Linked DNA regions of Homo sapiens. The protein of the gene in region 2 interacts with the protein of the main gene of each other region in a pairwise test. Each region holds a gene or a part of one and is shown on either strand. Other genes may lie near its edges.

What was found. Proteins that work in one complex are often made in the same cells at the same time.
Region 1: the proteins of CKAP5 (region 2) and SLAIN2 interact in binary tests that used the Homo sapiens proteins (3 or more experiments, as listed by UniProt).

What each region holds. Positions count from the first base shown.
Region 1 is NC_000004.12:48,339,270-48,343,015, reverse strand, and holds the start of SLAIN2 (SLAIN motif-containing protein 2), read right to left. Parts: upstream 1,488-3,746; 5' UTR 1,277-1,487; coding exon 888-1,276; intron 280-887; exon of another isoform or gene 1-279.
Region 2 is NC_000011.10:46,844,191-46,847,936, forward strand, and holds the start of CKAP5 (cytoskeleton-associated protein 5), read right to left. Parts: upstream 2,091-3,746; 5' UTR 2,030-2,090; intron 1-2,029. UniProt on the Homo sapiens protein: Binds to the plus end of microtubules and regulates microtubule dynamics and microtubule organization. Acts as a processive microtubule polymerase. Promotes cytoplasmic microtubule nucleation and elongation. Plays a major role in organizing spindle poles.

The sequences.
Region 1 (3,746 bases), on a different chromosome or scaffold from region 2:
CTTTATAATAAAACGAGAGGAAAAGCCTCCCATGTCCTATTTATGAAAGTGATATTAAGGTGGGGGGGCCACAATTTCATCAAGAAGTGGCTTATGACAATATAGCTTTGGTTTAAATTTTTAAATAGGACTCTTTTTCTCTGCCCCTAGAAGGACGTGGAAATGAAAGATGGATGTGATAACTGTCAATTCAGAGCTCTGCAAAACGCCAGACTCAATTCTTGTTTTAGAAAATAAGAGCCAGGGCTCGTTCCACCCTTGACTCTTCACACAGAGTAACAAAAAAAAAAAAAAAAAAAAAAAAGCAGCACCATCCTCTGCCCTCTCTTCACACAAAGCAAGGTTTACCCCACTACCCAAAGGGGAGTGCTGATTCATACGGTCTCCCCATCCCCGCCAGAAATGGGTCCCAAACACCAACCGCTGCATAGACGTAGACGACTCTGGTCTGCCCCTGACCCCCACACCTGGTGATACCTCATCAAGCAGACCCCTCTCCTACATCCAGAATGCCCAGGGCCACCATCCGAAAGCCAGTATCTTACACAAAGCAGGATCCCTGCCTACAAAGCAGTTTCCCACCTCCGACTCCTCCCCAGGCGAACAGCCCTTCTCAAGCTGCCCCAACCCACAGACCCCAATAGGGTCCAGCACTCAGAAGGTCCACAATCCAAAGGACAACGAGCTACAACCCTGTTACTTGCGCACGCCTCGAACCCCCAACTCCAGCTGACGTTCCCTCTGCCAAAGCAAGAAAACCACAAGTCGCCACAGGAGAGCGGACCCGGCTACACAAAGCGAGGCGCCCGACCAGAGGGACCCTCAGAGGACGCTCTCCGCCCCCGGGCCCGTCCCCGCCCAGCTCCTGCCCGGCGCCTCGCGCTCACCAGCTCTCCTCCTCCTCCTCCCAGCCTGACAGGCGCTCCAGCTCGTCGGGCCGCAGCGGCTCCACCTCGTCCAGCAAGCCGCCCTCGCCCGCCGCTAGCAAGGAGGTGGCGTCCCGCAGCTCTTCGCTACTCGTCCGCCTCGGGCCCGACCCGGGCCCGCCGCCCGACTTGGCGCTGAGGCCCAAGGGGAAGCCCCGAGGAGACGCCGCGCCGGAGGAGGGAATGGACGCGCCGGCCCGAACCGGGCTGCCGGGCCCAAGGGAGCCGGCGCCCTGCACGGCCCCCGAGCGGCTCCTCAGCTGTTCGTTCTGCTTCTCCAGCTTCTTCACCAGCTCCTGCAGCTTCCGCACCTCCTGGTCCGCGTTCACGTTGGAGTTAACGTCCTCCATCCCGGCCCCGCCGCCGCCGCCGCCTCCGCCGCCCGCTCGCTCTCGCAGCGACAGGGAAAGAGACGGAGGAAAGAGGCGTCGCCGCCGCTCACTCTAGCCGAGGCGCCGGCATATAGCAGGACCAGGCCCCACCGCCAGGGTCCCCCCACCTCGGGTTCCAAAGCGCCGCTGGCCCCAGCCGAACTGCCTCATCTGCGCCGGCTCCGGGATTGGGGGAGGCGGCGCCAATATCCGGCCCCTGCCGCCATCTTCCCTCCGTCCCTCCGCCCCCCGCGGGCCGGCCCAGTCGGTGACCTCAGAGCGTCGGGGGTGGACGCGGCCGCCGGCGGGCGCTGAGAGGACCCGGCGCCAGCTCGCGGCGGGGCGGGGCCACGGACGGGGCCTATGGGGCGGGGCCGGTGCTTGAGGGGCGGGGATTAGGCCGGAAGGGGCGTGTCGGCGGATGTGGGACGCGGCCGGGCTGGCTAGGGAGGGTCCCTGCAGAACGGGAGGCCAGCAGAAGGCTCGCGGCGGGCGGGGCTGAGGTGGCTAACAAGGTCCTCGAACAGCCTCGCCTGTTGGTCTGGGCGTGTGGGCGTGTTCTCCACCCCTTACAGGGAGTGTGGGACCCGCGGGCCAGTCTCGCCCTTGTTCCGGGCCGGATCTCGAGTGGGCGCTCAGCCCGGCGGTGGAGAGACAGTTTACTTTGTTCAGCAAATATTTAATCGATGCCGACTTTTAATTGGAGATTGTCTCGGCTGGCAGGAGCCTCTAGACTGCCTGTGTCCTGTTTCTTCCCCTGAAAATAAGAAACCCCAGTTTCAGACAGTTAAGAGAGGTCTAAGGTCAAAATAATCATAATTTCTTGAGTGCTTCCTACTGGCCAGACAGTGTGCTAAGCACTTTTAAAGGCATTATCTCATCGGTTAAAACATAGTTTTCCCGACTTAAAGTTTACAGCACACTGGGGCGGAAGCGGGGGATAGTAAACCGCTTCTCTACTCCCTTTCTCCGTTTATTGACTCACACTCTGTTCTTTGGATCACTTCCTTCGGAAAAAGTTCCTCGTAGTGTGTCTTGACTTTTTTAAAAGTTGTATGTTAAAAGTAGTTAAACACGCTGACAGATACTGAAGAATGAAGAAAATTGTAAGAATGTGAAGTCTGCCTTTAGAATGCGGCAGGAAACCTAAACAAAACTTAAATGCTTTGTTTTGATCACATTATCACAGTCGTTGGTCTTCAGAGGTCAATTGTGAACGGCTTTGGCTTGTGTTTGCAGCTTTTCTTCAGTTGCCGCCTCCACCCTTAGTTTAATAACAATGATCCAGTCCTGTTACACCTGAGTGTGGACTCATGCCATGACTGACTTGCTTCTACCCTTTAGCTTTTCTAGTGCCATATTCTCCGCCTGCCATATCTGATTCTTTTCTTAAATCCCATACTCTCTCATTCAGGAAACCTCTTCCCAACAATTCCACAAAGATCTAATTATTCTGCATATTCTAGCACTACGTGATCAATAGTTCTCAATAGGTGTTTGCACTTTTTTTTAAATTGCTTTTTTCTCTAAGAATTATTTTTCGTTTGTTTTTGTCTGTTTACTTGATTTAAGGACACTTCATTTTTGCTTCCCATGTCTAGTACACTGACACAGTGGACACTCAATACTTGGTTTGTTGAAAGTTAAGTAGACTATAAGTTCTACTTAAAACCACGTAGCTATTTATTCGTAGCAAAAAACGTATTTGTGTTAAAAGTTTGCTGGCTAACTATAAGTCGAGTATTTTTCTAGCTATACAGACCTAGTCAAAGGATGTGATTGTTTGCTAACATAATTGTCAAGTAATATATATTATCTGTGTAATGCTCATCTAAATATCATTGCTCTTTCTGACCAGTCTGAACTTGTTGCCGGAGGGTTAAAAATCATGACTACTTCACGTGTAGCAGTTTTCACTTGCATTCAATGCTTTGTAAAATAGATTCCAACTAGTCAGTTTCTATAAGGCGAACCCTTCAAATATACTCCTTGAAAAGAACAGTTCACCGGACATTATGAAGTTAGCACTAATGTTTGTGGGGCAGGAAAAGCTGTTGTAGTGTGGAACAATGAATTAAGAATCAGAAAGCCTGATGTCGGGTTCTAGCTGTAGCATAAATGCACTTGACCTTGATCGCTGCTCTCTAATCTCTGGTCCTTAGTTTACTTTAGAATGCGTGAGTTGGAGGATCTCCAGTATCTCTTCCAGGATGAAAAAGTAAAGGATTCTGGTGAGGCCTCATGGTTGCAAAACATGAGAGTGAATATACTTAGATATATAGAGAAGTTCATAGTGGATAGATATACTTGGATTTTTAAATTCTATTGCCTTACTCAATGTCTTACCTTTTTCATTCAATAAATATTGAATATATCTACTATATGGCAGGCACGAATTTAGATATTTGGATGTTTAATAGGCCTCTTAAGTATCAAACAACATTCAGTT
Region 2 (3,746 bases):
TAGCCTGGGCGAAAGAGCAAGACTCTGTCTTAAAAAAAAAAAAAAAGGAAAAGAAAGTGAGTGTTGATGGAATTAAGATAAAAGTTTACAGGAGAGTTGGTATATTCAAACACACTTCATATGAGAGCATAAGAGCTCCACACCCTTCTCCCATACCTACAAGCCCTACGCCTCTCTTCATCTGTATGCTTTGTAGCATCCTTTACAATAAACCGTGAAGGTAAAAAACAAACAAACAAACAAACAAAAAACACCAAAAAAACAGGTGCTGCTAAAACTGAACTGTCAGTAGTAGAAGACTGCGATGGAATTACCACACCCACTGTTCATAATTCAAACATAATTCAAAACTGATCAAGACTTTAAAGTAATGGAGAATAAAGTAAAAGGCATGTTAATTGTTACGGAATACCTTTGCTTGCCATTGCCTCAGTGAACAGCCTTTTAAAAAATTTTTTTTCTTTTTTTTGAGACAGAGGGTCGCTCTGTCACCCAGGCTAGAGTGCAATGGCGGGATCTTGGCTCACTGCAACCTCTGTCTCCCGGGTTCAAATGATTCTCTTGCCTCGGCCTCCCGAGTAGCTAGGATTACAGGCGCCCGCCATCACGCCCAGCCATTTTTTGTATTTTTAGTAGAGAGAGAGAGAGAGAGACGGGGTTTCACCATGTTGGCCCGACTGGTCTCAAACTCCTGACCTCGTGATCCGCCCGCCTCGGCCTCCCAAAGTGTTGGGATTACAGGCGTCAGCCACCGCGCCCAGCCTAAAATCTTATTTAAAAATTTTTTTACATGAGTTTACCAACTAGATTTAACTTATGGTTGCAAAATAAATTGATTTCACCTTTATCTATATCATTAAATTTGGTAAAAGCATTACAGTTTGTCCAGTCACTTCAGAGAAGTCAAAGTCTTCTACAATTTCTTAAAGTTTCAAAAGATTCTTAGCTTAATTTATTGGCTCTTTAGGTCAAAAGAAGGACTTTTCAGGGTGATGAAAATGGAGGAAGGAGGAGCTCACCTTTCTAAAAATGAGTTTTCAATTACTATAATTATGCATAAGACAGGCAGCATTTCTGGGCCAAGATTTGATGCCTTGGTCCCATGAGAATTAAATTAGAGCCACGCATAAATTTGGGGCAAGTTCTGCAAAAACCACTTCAACCTCTATTGATGCTGAATAAAAAACTCATTGTTAAGATTCATCAACACGAATATATTTTCTAACACACACTAGCCACTCTGGCAACAACCCTTTCATCATTTTCTATCCAAGAAACACAACGGAATGCATTTCAATCCTGCTCAACAATTACCACGATTACAAGTAGAGGGGAGAGCTCAAAAGTAAGAATCTAGTTCACCGAGCCCGACCTTAAAGTAGCAAGGCCCAACCCACACTGCTGGCTATTGTATTGGTTCCCCAACACCTCCAGGGCTGGAAGGACACCAGAACGCTCCCGACACGTTGAGAGAGAGAAAGCCAGTCGTTAAGGGCGGGGTGGTGGATGATCGGAATCGTTCACATCGCAGCAAGCCAGCAGGGACACAGGTGTGCGGCCAGGCCCCGGTGCCGCTGTCCTTGCTCCAGGGCGACAAGGCCCTTCGCAACCACCACAGCCCTCGTAGGCGCTTACTTATTCATTCACTTGACAATTACGCGAGAGGCACTCTAGCAGGGCCGGCTCTCGGGGCCCCCGCCCTAGTCTTGGTAAATCGCTGCCGCCAGGCGCGGCCCTGCACCGCCCGCGCCCCGCGGACGCTGCCACCCGCGCCACGCTGCGGCGCGCTCTGGCCACCTGGAGCCCAACCCCGGCCTCCGCCGCACACGAGCGCCCACGCCCCCGGCCCTGCCCGCCGCAGGTCCCCCGGCCTCCGGCTCGCTTCGCCGCCTCAGACCTGCCGGGTTCGTGGGGCAAGTGGGGCGCGCGTCTGGAGACCTCCAGCCGCCCAGGATTCAGGGGCTCCTCTGCGCGCGCGATGCCTGCACTCGAGGGCCTCGCGGGTGGGGCAGGCCCACCGACCACTCACCTCAGCTGGGTCAGAACCAAGCGGCCTGCTCTAAGCCGTTTGAAACCGCTTGGGCCGCCGCACACCCCGCAGTGTCCTCGTTCTTTATTGGTCCTCGACGGACCGCCCATCGGACTTTTATTGGTCCATTTGAAAGGCCTGTGGGCACGCGCCGCCCGCAGCCTTAAAGGGGCCGCGCGCAGCCGTGTTTCCCTCTGGACCAGACGCCGCCTGCACGGGTGGGGACGCTGGTCGCTGCCGGGGGCAAGTCTGCCGACTCCAGAAAGAAAGGCGAAAGAATGTGTGTAGACCCGGGCATCCTTGGTCGTCAGCATGTTTGCTTTATTTAATTACAGATGTTCAGGCTGCTGTCAACACCCGACAATTTTTTTTGGTCATTTCATTCCCTAGAGATTGTGAAGCTAAGTGCTGTGAGGGAAACCAGAGGCAGCTGAGATGTCGTGGAAGTAACAGCGAATGAAGCCAGGATGCTGGATTCTGACCTTGGAACTGTTCTGAGTAAATCACTTTTCTCAGTAAATCTTCTGGAGTTGTTTCCTTATCTGTAAAATGGGATAACGATGTTTCCCTTACAATTTAATGGAGGAGTTAATATAACTAATAGAATGTCTGAGAAAAGCCTTTGTGAACTGTAACGCATCCTGCAAATGCTTAATATTCCCTTATAAAAACGAGAGGCTTGGTTAACATGATCTCCAGAATTTTAGCTTAGCTCTACATTCAGTGTTTCTGTGAATGAGTTCAGGTCCTTACTTCCAAGGAATTTGTAATCTACAGTGGTTGGAGGAATATAACATACAGACTAGTCACTAAAATTCAAAGCAGTGTAATAACTGTATAAATGAAAAGCTATAAATGCTTAGAGACAGGAGAAATTTGATGGGGGAGGATCTGTGAGGAAGATGAATTTTTAACCTAGGATTTAAAGAATGTGTAGATTCCCAACAGGCTAAAAGATGGAGAGAGGATGGATAAAAGTAAATGAAACAATTACATGTTTTTTCATTGTCAAGTTGGCAGAGATGAAAAAGTTCAACAGCCTTTGGTTGGTCAAGATTTGGAAAAACAGGCTGGGTGCAATGGCTTATGCCTGTAATCCTAGCGCTTTGGGAGGCCGAGGCAGGAGGATTGCTTGAGGCCAGGAGTTCAAGACCAACCTGGGTCTTGCTATCAAGACCCCATCTCTGTTTTTAAAAATATAAAGAGATTTGGAAAAATGGACACTCAAAGTCAATATTGGTAAGAGTATAATTGGTACAAACCTTTAGGAGGACAATTTGACAGTTACTAAAATGTACATAATCTAGTTCTGGCCCAGTAATCCACTATGAGGAATTTATCGTACAGATCTGTGCAAGTATGCAAAGAAAAATGTACAAGGATGTTTACTGCAATACTGCTTTTTTTTTTTTTTTTTTTGAGACAGTCTCGCTCTGTCGCCCAGGCTGGAGTGCAGTGGCGCAATCTCAGCTCACTGCAACCTCCGCCTCCCGTGTTCAAGCGATTCTCCTGCCTCAGCCTCCTGAGTAGCTGGGACTACAGGCACGTGCCATCACACCTGGCTAATTTTTTGTAGTTTTAGTAGAGACGGAGTTGCACTGTGTTAGCCAGGCTGGTCTTGATCTGCTGACCTCGTGATCCTCCCGCCTGGGCCTCCCAAAGTGCTGGGATTACAGGCGTGAGCCACTGCACCCGGCTTTTTTTTTTTTTTTTTCTG